Linked DNA regions of Homo sapiens. The protein of the gene in region 1 interacts with the protein of each later gene in a biochemical or structural test. Each region holds a gene or a part of one and is shown on either strand. Other genes may lie near its edges. The genes, in order: RLN3, RXFP4 and RXFP1.

Evidence for each region.
Region 2: the proteins of RLN3 (region 1) and RXFP4 form a complex in vitro, tested with the Homo sapiens proteins (one study listed by BioGRID).
Region 3: the proteins of RLN3 (region 1) and RXFP1 interact in a test that uses a peptide from one of them, tested with the Homo sapiens proteins (one study listed by BioGRID).

What each region holds. Positions count from the first base shown.
Region 1 is NC_000019.10:14,023,998-14,031,187, reverse strand, and holds the start of RLN3 (relaxin-3 preproprotein), read right to left. Parts: upstream 3,041-7,190; 5' UTR 2,984-3,040; coding exon 2,794-2,983; intron 944-2,793; coding exon of another isoform or gene 832-943; intron 479-831; coding exon 240-478; 3' UTR 1-239. UniProt on the Homo sapiens protein: May play a role in neuropeptide signaling processes. Ligand for LGR7, RXFP3 and RXFP4.
Region 2 is NC_000001.11:155,937,308-155,943,699, forward strand, and holds RXFP4 (relaxin-3 receptor 2), read left to right. Parts: upstream 1-4,330; 5' UTR 4,331-4,402; coding exon 4,403-5,527; 3' UTR 5,528-5,780; downstream 5,781-6,392. UniProt on the Homo sapiens protein: High affinity receptor for INSL5. Also acts as a receptor for RLN3/relaxin-3, as well as bradykinin and kallidin. Binding of the ligand inhibit cAMP accumulation.
Region 3 is NC_000004.12:158,643,790-158,650,901, reverse strand, and holds part of RXFP1 (relaxin receptor 1 isoform 1 precursor), read right to left. Parts: intron 5,994-7,112; coding exon 5,764-5,993; intron 4,600-5,763; exon of another isoform or gene 4,221-4,599; intron 4,112-4,220; coding exon 3,701-4,111; intron 2,404-3,700; coding exon 2,185-2,403; intron 1-2,184. UniProt on the Homo sapiens protein: Receptor for relaxins. The activity of this receptor is mediated by G proteins leading to stimulation of adenylate cyclase and an increase of cAMP.

The DNA.
Region 1 (7,190 bases):
CACTTGACCAGGCAGGGGCACAGCTTCCTTAGGGGCCAGGGTCATGATAGGCTGGTCAAAGGGCAGGGTTGGATAGGTGGTGTCGGGAGACTGTGCCTGAGCCCACAGTGCCTCTGTGACTTGTAGATGAATGAATGAATGTGTGAGGCTCGAAAGACAGGTGCCCAGCCAGACACTAGTTGAGTGGATGGCAGGACTGGGGCATTGGTCCTGGTGCCCACGGCTGCCCAGCCCTCAAACTAGCAAAGGCTACTGATTTCACTTTTGCTACACCCCCACTTGCAGCAGCTGCTGGAAAGGCCAGCCAGGACATCTCGGCTGCCCCGAAGAACCCCAGGGGTTCCTTGCCAGCTGGGTCGCCCCCTGTAAAAGGCCTGGGGTGACTTGGTCAGGGCCAGCCACTCGCTGGACCCCATGGCCTCATCCAGCTCGCCTGCCAGACTGTCTTCATCAGCATCTGCATCCGGGAAGGTATCTCCTGCAAAAGATGAACAGAGTTAGTGATCAGGGCTCAGCTGCTGCTGCACCCACAGTCATGGCTCCTGGCCAGTCTAGCTCTGATCTTGTGACAACAGTCATAGACATAGTTCAGAGTTTTTATTCCACCCAGTCCTGGGTTCAAATTCTGGCTCTGCCAGAGTAGGTGGGATTACAGGTGTCTGCCAGCAGGCCTGGCTGATTTTTGTATTGTTATAGAGATGGGGTTCACCATGTTGTTCAGGCTGGTCGCAAACTCCTGACCTCAAGTGATGTGCCCACCTCAGCCACCCAAAGTGCTGGGATTACAGGCGTGAGCCACCGCACCCAGCCCTGTCATTTATTTCTCCTTACTCTTTATTAATTGAGGACCTGGTACATTTGGGAGCTGGGCTGACTGAGCATGAATCCAGCTTCTCTAATCGTGAGCAAGTAAATTTACTTCTTGGAGCCTCAATGTTCTTTTCTGCAAAGTGGAAAAAAATAATTACTCCAACCTTCTCAAGTTTTATAAGGAGTTAATATTCATTAAAAAAAAAAACTTAGAACAATGTCTGGAACATGATGAGCACTCAAAAATGACTATTGAGTCCGGGCACGGTGTCTCACACCTGTAATCCCAGCACTTCCAGGGGCACATGCTGGAGGATCACCAGAACCAGGAGTTCAAGAACAGCCTGGACAACACAGCACTACCCTGTCTCTACAAATAATAAAAAGTTAGACATGTTGGCACAAGCCTGTAGTCCCAGCTACTCAGGAGGCTGAGGCAGGAGAATTGCTTGAGCCCAAGAGGTTGAAGCTGCAGTGAGCTGTGATCACACCACTGCACTCCAGTCTGGGCAACAGAGCAAGACCCTGTCTCAAAAATAATAATAATAATAATAATAATAATAATAATAATTTATTGATCACTTACTTTGTGTCAAACAACGTTTTAAGTGCTTTAGCAGGTTAACTTCTTTATTCTTCTCAGTGATAACCAGTTGAGGTGGGTGCAGTTATCACCCGTATTTTCCAGAGGAGACCACTGAGGCAGGACTCAGTAAAGAATTTGCATGGCTGGGCGCGGTGGCTCATGCCTGTAATCCCAGCACTTTGGGAGGCTGAGGTGGGAGGATCACCTGAGGTCAGGAGTTGGAGACCAGCCTGGCCAACATGGTGAAACTGTCTCTACTAAAAATAAAAAGATTAGCGAGGTATGGTGGCACACATCTGTAATCCCAGCTACTTGGGAGGCTGGAGGCACGAGAATCGCTTGAACCCAGGTGATGGAGGTTACAGTGAGCCAAGATTGCACCACTGCACTCCAGCCTGGGCAACAGAATGAGATTCTGTCTCAAAAAAAAAAAAAATAGTAGCACATGAACACACAACTATTACATTGTAGAGCTACTATCTGAATCCAAGTGGTGTGTCTTCTATGTCCACGCTCATACCTATCCTCCTTCTCACCATCATGAATATCTATTTGCCAGGTCCCTGCCCCTCATGAAGCTAGGTCTTCTGTTCCCTCTGACTCTCCTGATGGATCCCAGATTGTGCCGCTGCCCTGCTGAGACTCTGCCCTAATCTGTTTTGATTTAATCATACCACTTAATCCTGCAAGATTCAGGAACTGTGTCTCCCATTTGAAGATAAAGACACTCAGAGACTCTAATCTCAGCACTTAGGGAGGCCGAGGTGGGAGGATCACTTGAGCCCAGGAGTTCGAGACCAGCCTAGGCAACATAGTGAGACCCCTGTTTCTACAAAAAAAAAATTTAAAACTAGCCAGGCATGGTGTCAGGTGCCTGTGGTCTCAACTACTCTGGAGGCGGAGGCAGGAGAATCACTTGAGCCTGGGAGGTCGAGGCTGCAATGAGCAGTGATTGGGCCACTGCATTCAAGCCTGGGCAATGGAGTGAGACCACATCTCCAAAAAAAAGACACTCAGAGACGGAAGAAAAACCAACTTGCTGGGGAGAGGTCATGCATTAGGTGACAAACCCAGCTATGTGTATACCACACCCTTCACATTACCTGCTGGAAAGGGTTGGAAAACACTTCGGTGTTGTCTTTGCAAATGGCACGCTCCCCGCCCCCACCTGTCCTCAGACTTCCAGCCCCCATGGATGGCTTGCAACACCCCATCCCAGCTCTGCAGCTCTGCTAACTCCTGAGCCCTTGTTTCAAGGCTGGGCAGGTGTCCCTGGCTGAATGTGGCAGGACAGGGACCCTCCTCCTCCAGCAACCTCCTCTTATCTCTGTCCTTAGCTCCTGGGACCCATCCAGCCACCTGTTCCCCTTCTACATCCACTCTCTCCCCAGCCTCACCCATAGCCTCGTGGGCCAGGATGTCTGATCGTCTCCACCGGGAGCCCCCGCAGGTGAAGATGACTGCTCGGATGAATTCTCGGCCGCAAAGCCTGACCCCGTAAGGCGCTGCCCGGGCCTCAGCTCCCGGCCACAGCTCCCCGGTCAGCACCCATACCGCCAGGAGCAGCAGCAGCATGTACCTGGCCATGCTGGACGGAGATGCTTTGAACGTGAGAGTGGGCCAGTGTCTCTGCTGCCTCTTGGCCCCCCATTTATACATCGTGGCTCCCCCACACTCTGCCTGAAGAAAGCTGAGTGCCTCCCTTATCTTCTCCAGCAGAGGGGAGACAGGCACGGCCCCCCCAACCCGACCTTTCTCATGTCCCCAGCGAAGTGATAACCTTTCGCTAGGGACAGGGTGATGTGGCCCAGCTTATTGTCAACATCATTGACAGAGAGGCGAGAAGGTCTCCAACCTGCAGAGACCAGAAACGCATAATCCCAAAAGGCGGGGTAAGGTGACACAACCAGATCCCCACAACGTTAGGGTCCTGGACCTCTTCGAAGATCATAATAGCAGTGAACGCCCAGTGCAGTATGTGCTACGAGGCCAGGCACACTACTGTAAGCATTTTATTGTTTATTTGTTTGTTTGTTTGTTTAGATGGAGTCTCGCTCTGTCACCCAGGCTAGAGGTACAGTCCCAATGGCACAATCTTGGCTCACTGCAACCTCCGCCTCCCAGATTCAAGAAATTCTCCCGCCTCAGCCTCCCAAGTAGTTGGGATTACAGGCGCCCACCACCACACCTGGCTAATTTTTGTATTTTCAGTAGAGACGGGGTTTTACCACGTTGGCCAGGCTGGTCTCGAACTCCTGGCCTCAGGTGATCCGCCTGTCTCAGCCTCCCAAAGTGCTGGGATTACAGATATGAGCCACAGCCCTCAGCTGCTCAAAGCATTTTATATCTCTGTAATGTATTTGATTCTCCCAACAACCCAGGGTAATGGTTCTCAAATGTGAGTGAGCTTCAGAATCTTTGGGTAGGCTTGTTAAAACAGAAATCAGGCCAGGCGCGGTGGCTCACGCCTGTAATCCCAGCACTTTGGGAGGCCATGGCAGGAGGATTACCTGAGGTCCGGAGTTCGAGACCAGCCTGGCCAACATGGTGAAACCCCGCCTCTACTAAAAATACAAAAAATTAGCCGGGTGTGGTGGCTCATGTCTGTAGCCCCAGCTCCTTGGGAGGCTGAGGCAGGAGAATTGCTTGAACCTGGGAGGTGGAGGTTGCAGTGAGCTGAGATGGCGCCACTGCACTTCAGCCTGGGCAACAGAGTGAGACTCTGTCTCAAAAACAAACAAACAAAACACATATCTTTGTGTCCTACCTGCAGAGCTCCTGACTCAACAGGTATGGAACATATCTAAGAATCTGCATTTCCAACCAGTTCCCAGGTGACATTGATCCTGCTGGTTCAGAAACCAGACTTTTTTTTTTTTCTTTTTTTCAGAGACAGGGTCTGGCTATGTTGCCCAGGCTGGATTGTAGTGGTGGCAACATAGCTCACTGCAGCCTTGAATTCCCGGGTTCAAATGATCCTCCCACCTCAGCCTCCTAAGTAGCTGGGACTACAGGTGTGTACCACCATGCTCAGCTAATTTTTGTATTTTTTGTAGAGATGAGACCTCACAATGTTGCCCGGGCTGGTCTCAAACTCTTGGACTCAAGGGACCCAAATGCGTCAGACTCTCGAAGTGCTGGGATTGGCTGGACACAGTGGTTCACACCTGTAATCCCAGCACTTTGGGAGGTCGAGGCGGGTGGATCACCTGAGGTCAGGAGTTTGAGACCAGCCTGGCCAACATGATGAAACCCTGTCTCTATTAAAAATATAAAAATTAGCCGGGCATGGTGGCGGGTGCCTGTAATCCCAGCTACTGAGAAGGCTGAGGCAGGAGAATCGCTTGAACCCAGGAGGCAGAGGTTGCAGTGAGCCAAGATTGTGTCATTGCACTCCAGCCTGGAGCACCACGCCCAGCCCAGAAACCACAGTTTCTTTCTTTCTTTTTTTTTTTTTTTTGAGATGGAGTCTCGCACTGTCGCCCAGGCTGGAGTGCAGTGGCATGATCTCGGCTCACTGCAAGCTCCCCACTTCCCAGGTTCACGCCATTCTCCTGCCTCAGCCTCCCGAGTAGCTGGGACTACAGGCGCCCGCCACCACGCCCGGCTAATTTTTTGTATTTTTAGTAGAGACGGGGTTTCACTGTGTTAGCCAGGATGGTCTCGATCTCCTGACCTCGTGATCCGCCCGCCTCGACCTCCCAAAGTGCTGGGATTACAGGCGTGAGACACTGCGCCCGGCGGAAACCACACTTTTAAGAGCATGGGGTTATGAATTCAGGACTAAGATAATTCTCATATTACAAATGAGGAAACGGAGACACAGAAGGGTGTCCTGAGGCAGCAGATCCTAACGTTTTTGACGCCAGAAACCGGTTTCGTGGAAGACAATTTTTCCATGGATGGAGTGTCAAGTGGATGGTTTCGGGATGATTCAAGCGTATCACTTTTTTTTTTTTTTTTTTTTTTTTTGAGATGGAGTCTTGCTGTGTCACCAGGCTGGAGTGCAATGGCGCAATCTTGGCTCACTGCAACTTCTGCCTCCCAGGTTCAAGCGATTCTCCTGCCTCAGCTTCCGAGTAGCTGGGACTACAGGCATATGCCACCACGCCCAGCTAATTTTTGTATTTTTAGTAGAGACGAGGTTTCACCATGTTGTCCAGGTTGGTCCCGATCTCTTGACCTCATGATCCGTCCACCTCGGCCTCCCAAAGTGCTGGGACTACAGGCATGAGCCACCGCGCCTGGCCAAGCGCATCACATTTATTGTGCACTTTATTTCTATTATTATTATACTGTAGTTGTATATTGAAATAATCATACAACTCACCATAATGTAAAATTAGTGGCAGTGGCCAGGCACAGTGGCTCATGCCTGTAATCCTAGAACTTTGGGCAGCTGAGGCGGGCGAGTCACTTGAGGTCAGGAGTTCGAGACCAGCCTGGCCGACATGGTCAAACCCCATCTCTACTAATAGTACAAAAATTAGCTGGGCATGGTGGCACATGCCTGTAATCCCAGTTACTCAGGAGTCTGAGGCAGGAGACTCACTTGAACCCAGGAGGCAGAGTCTGCAGTGAGCCGAGATTGAGCCACTGTGCATCAGCGTGGGCGACAGAGTGAGACTTTGTCACAAAAAATAATCATCATCATCATAATAAAATAAAAATATATATATTGAGAGGCTGGGAATGATGGCTCACGCCTGTAATTCCGGAACTTTGGGCAGCCAAGGCAGGAGGATTGCTTGAACCCAAGAGTTCCAGACCAGCCTGGGCAACAGGTGAAACCCCACCTCTACAAATAATGTAAAAATTAGCCAGGTGTGGTGGCACACATCTGTGATCCCAGCTACTCAGGAGGCTGAGGTGGGAAGATCACTTTTGCCTAAGCGTTCAAGGCTGCCATGAGCTGAGATTGCATCACTGCACTCCAGCCTGTACAACGGAGCCAAACCTTGTCTAAAAAAAAAAAAAATTGAGGCCGGGCATGGTGGCTCATGCCTGTAATCCCAGCACTTTGGGAGGCTGAGGAGGACGGATCACTTGAGGTCAAGAGTTTGAGACCAGCCTGGCCAACACGGTGAAACCCGTCTCTACTAAAAATACAAAAATTTGCTGGGCATGGTGGCAGATGCCTGTAATCCCAGCTACTCAGGAGGCTGAGGCAGGAGAATCTCTTGAACCTGGGAGTCGGAGGATGCAGTGAGCGGAGATCACGCCATTGCACTCCAGCCTGGGCAACAAGAGCGAAACTCTGTCTCAAAAAAAAAAAAAAAAAGAGAGAGATAACATCCATATAAAATAAAACTAACCAGGCCAGGTACGGTGGCTCACGTCTGTAATCCCAGCACTTTGGGAGGCCAAGGCGGGCAGATCACTTGAGTTCAGGAGTTTGAGACCAGCCTGTCCACCGTAGTGTAAAACCCAGTCTCTAACAAAAATACAAAAATTAGCCAGGTGGGAAACAGGTGGTTTACAAATGTAAACCACTGCGGCCAGTCTTTCTTTTTTAAAGAGATGAGGCCTAACTATGTTGCCCAGGCTGATCTGGAACTCCTGAGCTCAAGTGATCCTCCCCCTTTGGCCTCCCAAAGTGCTAGGACTACAGGCATGAGCCACCAGGCACAGCTATGTTAATGTCAATTTCACCTCGACTTTAAAACACAGCAAAAACAAGGGCTCTGGTAAGGGGGGCAAGCTTGGCTTCAAATTCCACCTCTGCCTCTTTCCTGCTGTGTGACCTTGGCCAAGTCACTTAAACTCTCTGTGCCTTGGTTTCCTCACTTGCAAA
Region 2 (6,392 bases), on another chromosome or scaffold:
CCGGCCCCCCTTATTTTCTTAAGTTAAATGTTTAGTTCACTTATTTATAATTCTTTTTTTTTTTTTTGAGATGGAGTTTCACTCTTGTTGCCCAGGCTCGAGTGCAATGGTGCTATCTCAGCTCTCTGCAACCTTCACCTCCCAGGTTCAAGTGATTCTCCTGCCTCAGCTTCCTGAGTAGCTGGGATTACAGGTGTCTGCCACCATGCCTGGCTAATTTCTGTATTGTTAATAGAGATGGAGTTTCACCATGTTGACCAGGGTGGTCGTGAATTTCTGACCTCAAGTGATCCTCCTGCTTCGGCCTCCCAAAGTGTTGGGATTCCAGGTGTGAGCCCCGTGCCCAGCCTTATAATTCTCATAAAAGTCTTAATTTCACCAATAACATTTCTCTTTTGATGGCCAAGTGAGGTGACTCATGCCTATAATCCCAGCACTTTGGGATTCCGAGGCTGGTGGATCACTTGAGGCCAGGGCAACAGAGTGAGACCCCATCTCCACAAAAAATAAAAATTAGCCAGTGTGGTGGCACTTCTGTAGTCTCAGCTACTCAGGAGGCAGAGGTGGCAGAATCACTTGAATCGAGAAGGTTGAGGCTACAGTGAGACATGATCACACCACTGCACTCCAGCCTGGGTGACAGAGCAAAGAAACATAAAATAATAAAACATTTCTCTATTGATACAACGGAATCTGATTTTCTAAACTCAATTCAATAGCACTTTGTTCTACTGTTAATTGAAAAACTCTCTCTAAAGTGAGATACGTTAGGCTGAGGTCATTTTTCCTTTCTGTTGGGTGCATGGTCAAAAAATTGACATATGAATCAATTATTCTTTCCTAGTGGTCATTTAGGTATTATTAGGTCATTTACTACCAACTCTAAAGCAGTGACACCATGGAGAGCACATAAAATCCATAGAGCTAGGTCCCATAACCTCTCTGTCAGTCTCCTCTCCTTGCTACTCCCCCTGTGTTTCAGTGGCACTTTCTAGCTAAGATTCAGTCCCCTTTTCTCCAGATGGTGGTGCTACATTCCCATACCTGTCTCCAGAGTATCTCCCTCAAACTCATTTAGATCAGCCCAACCTTGGAAAATGCCAAACCGGGTCATGCTCTTTTGGCCTAATATTCTTTCCCACAGCAGTAGGAGTTGTGATGGGAAAAAAAGAAAAGATGGAGGGTGGGCTTTCTCAGTGTCTCCAGTATTCACCACATCACCCCAGGGGTACTACCTCAAGCATTTATTGAATAATTTTTCCAAACAAGGAGATTTCCTGTGAGGGATTCTGATGTCACCTCTAAAAATAGTTTTAGAAATATTTTTCCACTTTCTTACAAGGGGAAATCTATCAAAAAGAATAATGGAGCAGCTATTCAAAAAGAATAATGGAGCAGCTATTCAAAAAGAATTAGAGTGTATAGCCCCATTTCTAGCCCCTATGAGGCCTGGCTATACTTTGTGCCATGTGCTTGGATTGCCATGAGGTTACCCAGTGTTTTTTTGTTTTTTGTGGGTTTTTTTTTTTTTTTGAGACGGGGGTCTCACTCTGTCACCCAGGCTGGAGTGCGGTGGCATGATCACAGCTCACTCCAGCTTTGACCTCCCAGTCTCAGGTGATCCTCCCACATCACAGGTGCCCGCCACCACGCCCAGCTAATTTTTTGTTGTTGTTGTTTTGTATTTTTAGTAGAGTAGCTGGAACCAAGTAGCTGGAACCACAGGCATGAACCACCATGCCTGGCTAATTTTTTGTTATCTTTTGTAGAGATGGGGTTTTGCCATGTTGCCCAGACTGGTCTTGAATTACTGGGCTCAAGCAATCCATTCGCCTCAGCCTCCCAAAGTGTCACCATGACCAGCTGATTTTTTTTTTTTTTTTTTTTTGAGACGGAGTCTCACTCTGTCGCCCAGGCTGGAGTGCAGTGGCACGATCTCGGCTCACTGCAAGCTCCACCTCCCGGGTTCATACCATTCTCCTGCCTCAGCCTCCCGAGTAGCTGGGACTACAGGCACCTGCCACCACACCCGGCTAATTTTTGTATTTTTTTTTTTTAGAGATGGGGTTTCACCATGTTAGCCAGGATGGTCTCGATCTCCTGACATGCCTGTAATCCCAGCACTTTGGGAGGCCAAGGCAGGAGGATCACCTGAGGTCATTTCAAGAATATTTTTGATGCTAGGCGTGGTGGCTTATGGCTGTAATCCCAGCACTTTGGGAGGGTGAGGTGAGAGGGTTGCTTGAGCCCAGGAGTTCAAGACAATCCTGGGCAACATAGGGATACCCCATCTCTCCTAAAAATACAAAAATTAGCCTGTGTGGTAGCACATTCCTGTGGCTGAGGTAGGAGGATCACCTGAGCCTGGGGAGGTCGAGGCACTGAGCCAAGATTGTGCCACTGCACTCCAGCCTGGGTGACAGAGTGAGACCTCTTCTCAACCAAAAAAAAAAGAAAAAAAGAAAAAAAATTTTTTTTTTTTTTTGAGATGGAGTCTCGCTCTGTCGCCCAGGCTGGAGTGCAGTGGTGTGATCTCAGCTCACCAAAATCTCTGCCTCCCGGGTTCAAGTGATTCTCCTGCCTCAGCCTCCCGAGTAGCTGTGATTACAGGCACTCGCCACCACGCGCCACTAATTTTGTATTTTTAGTAGAGACGGGCTTTCCCCATGTTGGTCAGGCTGGTCTTGAACTCCCGACCTCAGGTGATTCGCTCACCTCGGCCTCCCAAAGTGCTGGGATTACAGGCATGAGCCACCTCGTCTGGCCAAGCAGTTATCTTAATTGCCAGATTAGCAGGGTGATTCTGGGTGGGCAGAGGAGTAGACATGGCCCCGAGAGACAGTGATGACACAGTCACACAGGAGCAGCCATGAGGCCAGAAGGTAGCCTGTGGGGCTCACCTGACCTTGGGCTGGGCACTCCCCTTCTGCCACCCCCTTTATACTCATCCCTGGTTCGAAAGCCCCAACATGTTGGCACCCAGCCTGTATCACTCTCACCTCTGGGTTTCTCCTATGTGTTCACAAGCCCACTGCTGATTTATTGTCGCAAAGGGCCCCTCTCTTCCCTCAGCACTCCAAAGGAACTGAACATCGAACGTTATCTTAATTAGCTGGCAGAGGGCAAGAAGGGGCTGAATATATTGGAATCCTTGAGAAAGCCTTACTCTTTTACCTATCCACCTCCTGCCTTCTCTTTGTCCCCACCTCAGCTCCTTCTGCAGTAGGTAGAGATGTAGGCAATGAAAGGGGAGGGCCCAATGAAGCATTTTTTTTTTCCAGTTATGATTGAGATCATGGGGAGACAGGATGAGGTGTGGTGAGGGCGTATCTCAGGATCCTTAGCTCTGACATGGGGTTTGCAGGAGAGAGTAGGGGGACCGCTGAGCTCTGTCCACAGACTAGAGCAGGAAAGGGGGGAAAGGCGGCGATAGAGGTTAGCAGGAATGTTTAATTATCAGGAGCAGGAACAGAACTGAGGGCATGCCCAGGTCCACACAGGCCCTCATAGGCCCAGTGTTCCCAGTGGGGAGGAAACAGGAAGCTGTGACTTCCTCTCTCTTTTCCCTCCCTGCTCTTAGCCTCAAGGTCACTGCTGCTGAGATGAATTCCAACCTGTTTTAGTTGGCACTGTTCCCTGGGCATGGTAATAGCCTCTCAGTACCCTTCTGCCACAAACACCCCAAACTTCTCCTTTGAAATAATATTCATACAAATTGCTATTTCACATGTGTTCTCTCATTGCATCATGCCACTCCTGTGAAGCAGACTTACCTGAAAATTTTAAGCAAGAAAACAGGCTTAGGGGAGTAAAGTAACTCTCCCAGTCACACGGCTAGTGAGCAGCAGGTCTGGGACTCCGCAGCCTCCGCTCTTTCCTCTCTTGGACACCCATGCTGATTCCCTGCCTCTATGCCACCTCCCAGGCCCCTTGCTTTGGGCCCCAAGGGAACACTTTCTGCAGAGGAGGGAGGCCTCTGCACTGTTAGGAACAGAGGCAGCTCTAGTTTGGTTCCTGTCATCTCTGGGACAGGGAACCTCCAGCTCTCTCCCTGGGGTGGAGGCTTGGGGCTGCCCTCCATAGCGGGGTAACTCTCCCTTCTCCCCTCCCTCTCTGCCATTTAGAGCCCCTCTTACAGGCGGGCGCATGCACATATACCCTGGCATTCAGGCTGTGCCTCGCCCTGCCCCACCTACCACCAATCTTGACCAACAGGAAGGTGGTGGGTTGTCCTTTCCACACCCCTCCCTCTGAGGTGTGGGCGTGGGCCAGGGCTCACCAGAGGCCCCAGAGAAGCACTTAATTCTACAGCCTCCTTCCTAGAGCCTTCAGTGGCCTCTGCCAGTCTGGCAGACACTTGCAGACCTCTCTTCTCAGCACCACCAATCTCTGATGCCCTGCGATGCCCACACTCAATACTTCTGCCTCTCCACCCACATTCTTCTGGGCCAATGCCTCCGGAGGCAGTGTGCTGAGTGCTGATGATGCTCCGATGCCTGTCAAATTCCTAGCCCTGAGGCTCATGGTTGCCCTGGCCTATGGGCTTGTGGGGGCCATTGGCTTGCTGGGAAATTTGGCGGTGCTGTGGGTACTGAGTAACTGTGCCCGGAGAGCCCCTGGCCCACCTTCAGACACCTTCGTCTTCAACCTGGCTCTGGCGGACCTGGGACTGGCACTCACTCTCCCCTTTTGGGCAGCCGAGTCGGCACTGGACTTTCACTGGCCCTTCGGAGGTGCCCTCTGCAAGATGGTTCTGACGGCCACTGTCCTCAACGTCTATGCCAGCATCTTCCTCATCACAGCGCTGAGCGTTGCTCGCTACTGGGTGGTGGCCATGGCTGCGGGGCCAGGCACCCACCTCTCACTCTTCTGGGCCCGAATAGCCACCCTGGCAGTGTGGGCGGCGGCTGCCCTGGTGACGGTGCCCACAGCTGTCTTCGGGGTGGAGGGTGAGGTGTGTGGTGTGCGCCTTTGCCTGCTGCGTTTCCCCAGCAGGTACTGGCTGGGGGCCTACCAGCTGCAGAGGGTGGTGCTGGCTTTCATGGTGCCCTTGGGCGTCATCACCACCAGCTACCTGCTGCTGCTGGCCTTCCTGCAGCGGCGGCAACGGCGGCGGCAGGACAGCAGGGTCGTGGCCCGCTCTGTCCGCATCCTGGTGGCTTCCTTCTTCCTCTGCTGGTTTCCCAACCATGTGGTCACTCTCTGGGGTGTCCTGGTGAAGTTTGACCTGGTGCCCTGGAACAGTACTTTCTATACTATCCAGACGTATGTCTTCCCTGTCACTACTTGCTTGGCACACAGCAATAGCTGCCTCAACCCTGTGCTGTACTGTCTCCTGAGGCGGGAGCCCCGGCAGGCTCTGGCAGGCACCTTCAGGGATCTGCGGTTGAGGCTGTGGCCCCAGGGCGGAGGCTGGGTGCAACAGGTGGCCCTAAAGCAGGTAGGCAGGCGGTGGGTCGCAAGCAACCCCCGGGAGAGCCGCCCTTCTACCCTGCTCACCAACCTGGACAGAGGGACACCCGGGTGAAGGGCGCAAGCTGAACACACTCCTCTTTCTGAGATCCACCAAGTGTAGGATCCTTGAGTCCTGGGGAGAAGCTGCCCTCTCTGCCAGGCTGCAGTGCCCTCAGGGAAAAGTCTGATCTTTGATCCCCAACTCTGGGTGTGGTGAATGGGGGAGGCGGGGGCTCAGATCAGAGCTGGATGTGACAAAGCTTAAGTCTTTATTTGGAGATGGGAAAGAAGAGGATCTGAGAATAAACCTCTGGATTATCCACAAATTGTCTTGACCTTTTATCCCAGTTCCACCTCCAGTTCAGTATGGAACAAAAGGATTCGTTGCTCCATTTCTGCTTTCTGCAAGAATACCTAGGAAAACTTCCCTAAGGGTTCTAGGCTAATGAATCAGAGGTCAGTGCCCATCTCTCTCTGTACCCACCCCCCACCTCAAAACAGGGTATCCCTTGTCTTTCTCCGGTATCAAGGCCAAAAATGCCAGCTTCCCCTGTCCTCACCTTACCATCTCAGTGGTGACCACTGAAACTTGCTGCCTGCAGAGGCCTCAGCTGCAAAAGCTGTAGTTCCCTTGAAGGGATGCCAGGTGTGGGGTATTGCTGGAATTTCCAGCACCTGCCAGGCCCTGGGTGTAAAACCCTGGTGCTGACGGGAGTGCCTGTGTGTCTCCCTTTAAATCAGGATTTGAAAGAAGTGAAGATAATGACAAGTCAAAGACATGGGTGGGGTGAAGGGAGGTGAGCGATTAAAGAGGGGAGGGGGCTGGGAGAACAGGCTGCAGGTAGAGCCAGAAAAGCAGAGACCTCAGAAAGTGGTGCTAGTCCTCCCTGCCCCAAATGCAAAGCCCAGAGTATCAATTTGAGTGTCAGAGCACCTGG
Region 3 (7,112 bases), on another chromosome or scaffold:
CCTGGGTTCAATCAGTCTTCACCACTTGGCCTTCTTTTTGTTGTTCATAAAATGTAAGATACTATCACCATCATCCATAGTACAGAACACAATTAAAATTATGTATTAATATATACAATTGTTTTTTTTTCCTGAGATAGAGTCTTGCTCTATCACCCAGGTTGTAGTGCAATGGCACAATCTCCGCTCACTGAAGTCTCTGCCTCCCAAGTTCAAGCATTCTCATGCCTCAGCCTCCCAAGTAGCTGGGACTACAAGTGCATGCCACCAGGCGCAGCTAAATTTTTGTATTTTGAGTAGAGATGGGGTTTCACCATGTTGGCCAGGCTGGTCTCCAACTCCTGACCTCAAGTGATCTGCCCACCTCAGCCTCCCAAAGTGCTGGGATTTCAGGTGTGAGCCACTGCGCCCTGCTACATGAAAATTTTAAAATGTGAATACAAACTGCATTATATATATATATATATATTTATATATATTTAACAGGATATATGCATTTTCATTGTGGTAAAATATGCATAACATAAAATTTACCATGTAACCATTTTAAGTGGACAGCTCAGTGGCATTAAGTACGTTCATATCATTGTACCATAACCACCATCCATCTCCAGAATGATTTCATCTCCCAAACTGAAACTCTATGCCTATTAAACACTCTCCATTCTCCCTTCCCCCAACCCCTAGAAAACACCGTTCTATGTTCTATGAATCTAACTATATCAGAAACGTCATGTAAGTGAAATAAAATATTTGTCCTTTTGTGTCTAACTTATTTCACTTAGCACAGTATCTTCAAGGTTCATCTATATTGCAGCATTTGTCAAAATCTCCTTCCTTTACAAGACTAAATACTAATCCATTGTGCGTATGTACCACATTTTGTTTATCCATTTACCAATCTATGGACATTTGTATTGCTTCTAACTTTTGGCTATTGTGAATAATGCTGCAATGAACATGGGTGTACAAATATCTCTTTGAGTCCCTGCTTTCAATTGTTTTGGTTTTTTCCTTAGAAGGAGAATTTCCACATTGGATGGTAACTGGACCATTTCCACATTGGATGGTAACTAAACCATTGGATGGTTTAAATTTTTGAGGGACTGCCATATTGTCTTCCATAGCAGCTGTACCATTTTATTTTTCTACCAGCAATTCACAAGGATTCTAATTTCTCCACAACTTTACCAACACTTATTTTTTTGTATGTGTGTTTTTTTAAAATAGTAGTCATCCTAATGGATGTAATGCACATTGTTTATTTTTTATTTTTTATTTTTATTTTTTTGAGACAGGATCTTGCTCTGTCACCCAGACGGGAGTGCAGTGGTGCAATCATGGCTCACTGCAGCTTTGAACTCCTGGGCCCAAGTGATCCTCCCACATTGGCCTCCCAAAGTGCCAGATTACAGGCGTGAGGCAACATGCCAGCCAACGTTCTTTCTAAATGCCAAGAATGTTTGCTTCTATTATCTCTCACACTCTGGCATGATCTTCTCTAAATTGCATGTATTACAGGAAGAAAATTTTCTTACATTTTGAAAAAAAATGCAGTAATTATTTAAGAATTGTTTTGGCCTGTTTTCCTTTCTAGTCACCTTAAGCATGTGATGATTAGAATTTCAACACCGTGTGGAATTTATTTTGGTCACTCATTGCTTCTTTGTTCCATAGTAATTGTATTGTTAGGCATTTATGGAAAAAAATAAACAGTTCTTCCCCAGTAAATGTTATATTGATGAGCAGAGCCAAAAGTACCTACAACTCTGACTTACAATTTTTACAATTTTTTTTTTTTGGCTCTGTCACCCAGGCTGGAGTGTAGTGGTGCAATTTCGGCTCACTGCCACCTCTGCCTCCTGAGTTCAAGCAATTCTCATGCCTTAGCCTCCTGAGTAGTTGGGACTGCAGCGGTGCACCACCATGCCCAGCTAGTTTTTGTATTTTTAGCAGAGATGGGGTTTCCCCATGTTGGCCAGGCTGGTCTCAAACTCCTGACCTCAAGTGAGCTGCCCGTCTTGGCCTCCCAGAGTGCTGGGATTATAGGCATGAGCCACTGTGCTCGGATCTGATGTACAATTCTTTGAATTGTTTAGTGTTAAGAATTTTAATTGTTTTCCTTAAAAGAACACTGTAAAAACAGATTTATTATTTCTTTAAGGAGATTAAAAAATATTGTACCTGGTATTTCTACCTGAAGCAGTGAAAGAAATTTCACTACAAAAATGGGTATCCAGCATAATGCATCAGTAAATACTATAAAGAAAAAACGTTTGGCAAGGATCATCTCTTTTTTAACTTGATTCCGTATTTCAGTTGCTGTTATGGCACTTTGATGAACACTATAAAACATGCTTCCATAGGAAAAAACTATGATGATAAATGCGGCCAAATTAATACCTATTTGGAATACAAACAGTATTATTAATGCATAGAAATATTTCTTTCAAAATGAACAAACATAAATAAAACATTTTTATTATTAAAGATACAAAGATGTTATTACTAAAGATACAAAGACTATAATGTGTGGGTTTTTTCTTCACAAAGAATTACTAAAGTCCACAAAAATCATGAATTTTTTTGAGATGAGGTTTTGTGGAAGTAGTGAAGAATGATAAAATGTTTACTTTTAAAATGAGATATTGAAATTACAGTAATTCAATGAATATCTTGGGTTTTTAAGCTTTCTAGTATTAGTGATGTTTTATTTTTAATTTTTTTAGAGATGGGTTCTTGCTCTGTCACTGACTGAAGTGCAGTGGTACAATCATAGCTCACTGCAGCCTCAAACTCCTGGGCTCAAGCAATCCTCCTGCCTCAGCCTTCCAAGTAGCTGGGAGTACAGGTGCATGCCATCACACCAGCTAATTTTTTTTTTTTTGAGATGGAGTCTCGCTGTGTTGCTCGGGCTGGAGTGCAGTGGCACTATCTTGCCTCACTGCAACTCTGCCTTCTGCGTTCAAGCAATTCTCCTGCCTCAGCCTCCCGAGTAGCTGGGACTACAGGTGCGTGCCACCATGCCCGGCTAATTTTTCTATTTTTAGTAGAGATGGGGTTTTACCATATTGGTCAGGCTGGTCTTGAACTCCTGACCTTATGATTGGCCCGCCTCGGCCTCCCAAAGTGCTGGGATTACAGGTATGAGCCACCGTGCCTGGCCTCACACCAGCTAATTTTTTAAAAATAATTTTGTAGAGATGGGGTCTTGCTATGTTGCCCAGGCTGGTCTCAACTCCTGGCCTCAAGTGATCCTCCCACCTTGGCCTCCCAAAGTACTGAGATTATAGCACAAGCCATTGTGCCTGGCCTAGTGATTTTTTTCTAATTCAGTTACTTTTTGCTGTACTCTGAAAATATTTTTACATTGCTGATTTAGAACAGTTGTATATATACTCACAAGCCAAAGATGTGTGTTGCCATGAATTTGAAAAGATAATAAATATCATTATGTTCATATTGTAAAACAAAGAGCCAAAACATATGTTGCTTAGCATGTTTAGGGTGAATACATGAAATACAGGTGTTTAGTGTCTTTTATTAAGCTGTGTCAGGTTGGAATTTATATCAGAGTATAATTTGGGGAGGAAAATCCTTGCTGGGGATTCTGATAGAATTCACCCTCATTCTTACTAACAAAAACTGGTTGGAAGATTTGAAATAAAAATTTGTGAACATTAGTTTCTTAGTTTCTTACCAAGAAAAATTGCCACTGAATAAATCTGGGCTCCAATACTTTCTGTATCTTCTGAATGAAGAGGGAAGCATACTCCATTGGTGCCATAGTAGTTTTTGAAAAATTCCTTATTGCTCAATGGAATGAAAGCCACTATAAAACCAGTAATCCAAATGAGAATCAGAACTGTAATTGTTCTGCATTTTCCAGGTCTCACACATCTAAAAGGATAGACAATGCAGATGTATTTTTCCAATGTCAGAAATGTTAACAGTAAAACTGATACTTCTGTGGACAGAATGGCCAAAGATCCTACAAGCTGACAATGAGTACTCTCCATCCACAGCTGCGCATGCTTATTGTATTCTCCACGAAACTTTAGGTCAAAGCCTCCGATCACGAATAAATATATTCCCATTAAGCAGTCGGCACCTAGAGGAGTCATAGTTTCACAAATTTAGAGAAATAAATAGGTATCATAAAATCATCAATAAGCAATAATATTTTTAATGCTAGAAAAAATAGTCAAGTTTCTTCCAACTTAGGAAGAGGTAATTTTTATTCTCCTAATAATTCATTTACAGATGAGGATCTATTCATAGACTCTCTTTGGTAACCACTCTCAAAGTTACTCTCTACAGTTAATTATGCAATCATTTCTTCATTTTCCTTTAAAGTGCAAGTCTCTAACAGCACAGATCTTGTCTATTGTTCTAGACCCATCACATAGAAGTGTCGAATAAATGAACAAAATGCAATCACGTAGAGCATTCAGTTAGGGACTCAGATGAGGATGGCATTACTTGGTTCTGCTCTTCCACTGAAATTCTCCCAACGCAACAAGCTCAAGGTGTCATATAAAATCTTGGAGAAAGTAATTCACAAGTTCCTATGATAGAATAATGACTGAATTCTGAAGCCTATAATTTAAGAGATATGTATAATTATGAACTGCTTTGCAGTCAGTACAATTTTAAGGGGCTTAAATTACTTACCAGAGTTGGTCTAAGCAAAACTGTTTTCTCTCTCTTTCAATTTTTACATCTTTTTCTGTCTCTTTTTAGGGTCTCCGATCCCAGGAATTAGCTCTCTTACACTACTTGGCATATTTCTTTTTAAGCAAACGTTACATATCAGAAAGTGGGTGAGATTTTTGGATCGCACAAGCATTCTACACAAAATCCCTAAAATCACATCACTGTATAAATCACAAGGCTGACCCTAAGCCTTTAACTCTGAAGTTACAGTCTAGGCTTCACCACGGAAATTGAACTTACTAAAAATTTTGTAGCTAGCAATACAAAATAGTAAATGGCTTCTGAGTTCTGTTTCTTACATAGCTTGCAATAAAAAAAAAACATTTAGACATTAGACTTTGAATAAGGATGGGGACAGCACATGGGGGCAGCACACATACAAAAGTAGAACCTCATGTAGATTGATGCTTTACTTGCTTGAGGGAGCATGGATAAATTCTAGAACACTTGACCTAGACTACAAACATCCTGAGGACTGGTTTCTTCCTTATTTTTCTTTGCAGTGTTCATTTAACATAACACCTTGCCATTACATTGCGCACACTTTTTGAAAAAATGAATACTCCCTAAAAATATTTTCTTATTTACACATTTCAGTTAGAGTGGAAAAAACTTCTAGTAGCTCAGAGATCAGGAAAACATGTAGTTGTTAAGTCAATATCTGTGAACTGGACATACACATAAAAAAGTAAGTATAGGTCTGCATGTAAAATTGTGACCATAGGAGGTTGCAATTTTATTTGTAGTAAAAGATTTTAGATGCGTCAACAAAATATTGTGCCTTCGGAGCCACTGTATGAGAGAGAACTAATAAATGAAAGCTTCCTTAATTTGCATAAGGTGATTAAATTTCCTAGTTTAAAAAACATATTTTTTTATTGCTAAAGTAATTCTATTTTCTTTGTAGAAAATGTGAAAACAGCATACAAGCAAAAAGGAGAAAAATGTAAAATTCCATAATTCTACCACTCACACAACTTATTTTCTAATAATAAAGCTTTTGTATATTTCAAAACTACAATTCTCCTTTAACCAGGAAATACTCACAGCAGAGAGAAATGATTGACATGGCATACAGCTTGTTCTCAGACCTGATATAAGGTCGCATGCAAATGACAAAAATGTTTCCAAAGCAGGTAACTGCAGATACAACCCAGACAAATACTCTCTGAATAATGCTTGCCAAGAGATTCTCTAGAGATGAAATTCCATCAGTGTTTGGTTTACAGCTGCGAACATGTGGTGCATACCCACAGTACTGGAATTTCTTAAAATATCTGGTGTACAAAGAGAAAGTAAAATAAGATTTTCCATTTAATTCAGTGTCACCATACATTCATATTTATTTCCTACATTTTATCGGTAGAAAGAAAATGTCTTAAGATGAAATTGAGAGGACTAAAACATTAGGGATTCTGAAACTTTAAACTTACATCCAATTATCATTAGCTTGATTTCATTGTTAAAGAATGTGTGGGTGAGAGTAGCAAATAGGCATAATAAACATAACAAGTGTTAGACATGTCTTAGAATACAAACTGTTAGATGTGATCAAGAGAATGAATCCCTCCAGAGAAACCGTTATCGTACTCGCAATGGTTAGTATACGTAAATGCAGTTACACAGCTCCTATTGTGCTGCAAGTGACTGCTTTCTATCCCTCAGGGGAAGAGTTAAGTGTTTTCTTTTCTGTGCTTCCGTGGCTTTTTGTTATTGAAGTTATGATGTTATTTCAACACCAATGAAAGAAAAAAAAAGAAAAGAAAAAAAGAAAAGAAAACATCCCATTAAAAAGTAGGCAAATGATCTGAACAGATATTTCTCAAAAGAAGACATACAAGGCTGGGCGCGGTGGCTCACACCTGTAATCCCAGCACTTTGGGAGGCCGAGGTGGGTGGATCACGAGGTCAGGATATTGAGACCATCTTGGCTAATATGGTAAAACCCCATCTCTACTAAAAATACAAAAAATTAGCCAGGCGTGGTGGCGGGCTCCTGTAGTCCCAGCTACTCGGGAGGCTGAGGCAGGAGAATGGCGTGAACCTGGGAGGCGGAGCTTGCAGTGAGCCCAGATCGTGCCACTGCACTCCAGCCTGGGGGCGACAGAGCGAGACTCTGTCTCCAAAAAAAAAAAAAAAAAAAAGAAGACATAGAAATGGCCAACCTATGCTTGAAAAAATGTTCAACCTCACTAATGATCAAGGAAATGCAAATTAAAACCACAATGAGGTATCATCTTACTCCAACGTTGGATGGATGGCTATTATCAAAAAGACCAAAAAGTAACAAATGCTGATGAGAATCTGGAGAAAAGGGAACTGTTATTGGCGGGAATGTAAATTAGTATAGGCACTATGGAGAACGGAGAACAATATGGGGGTTCCTCAGAAAACTA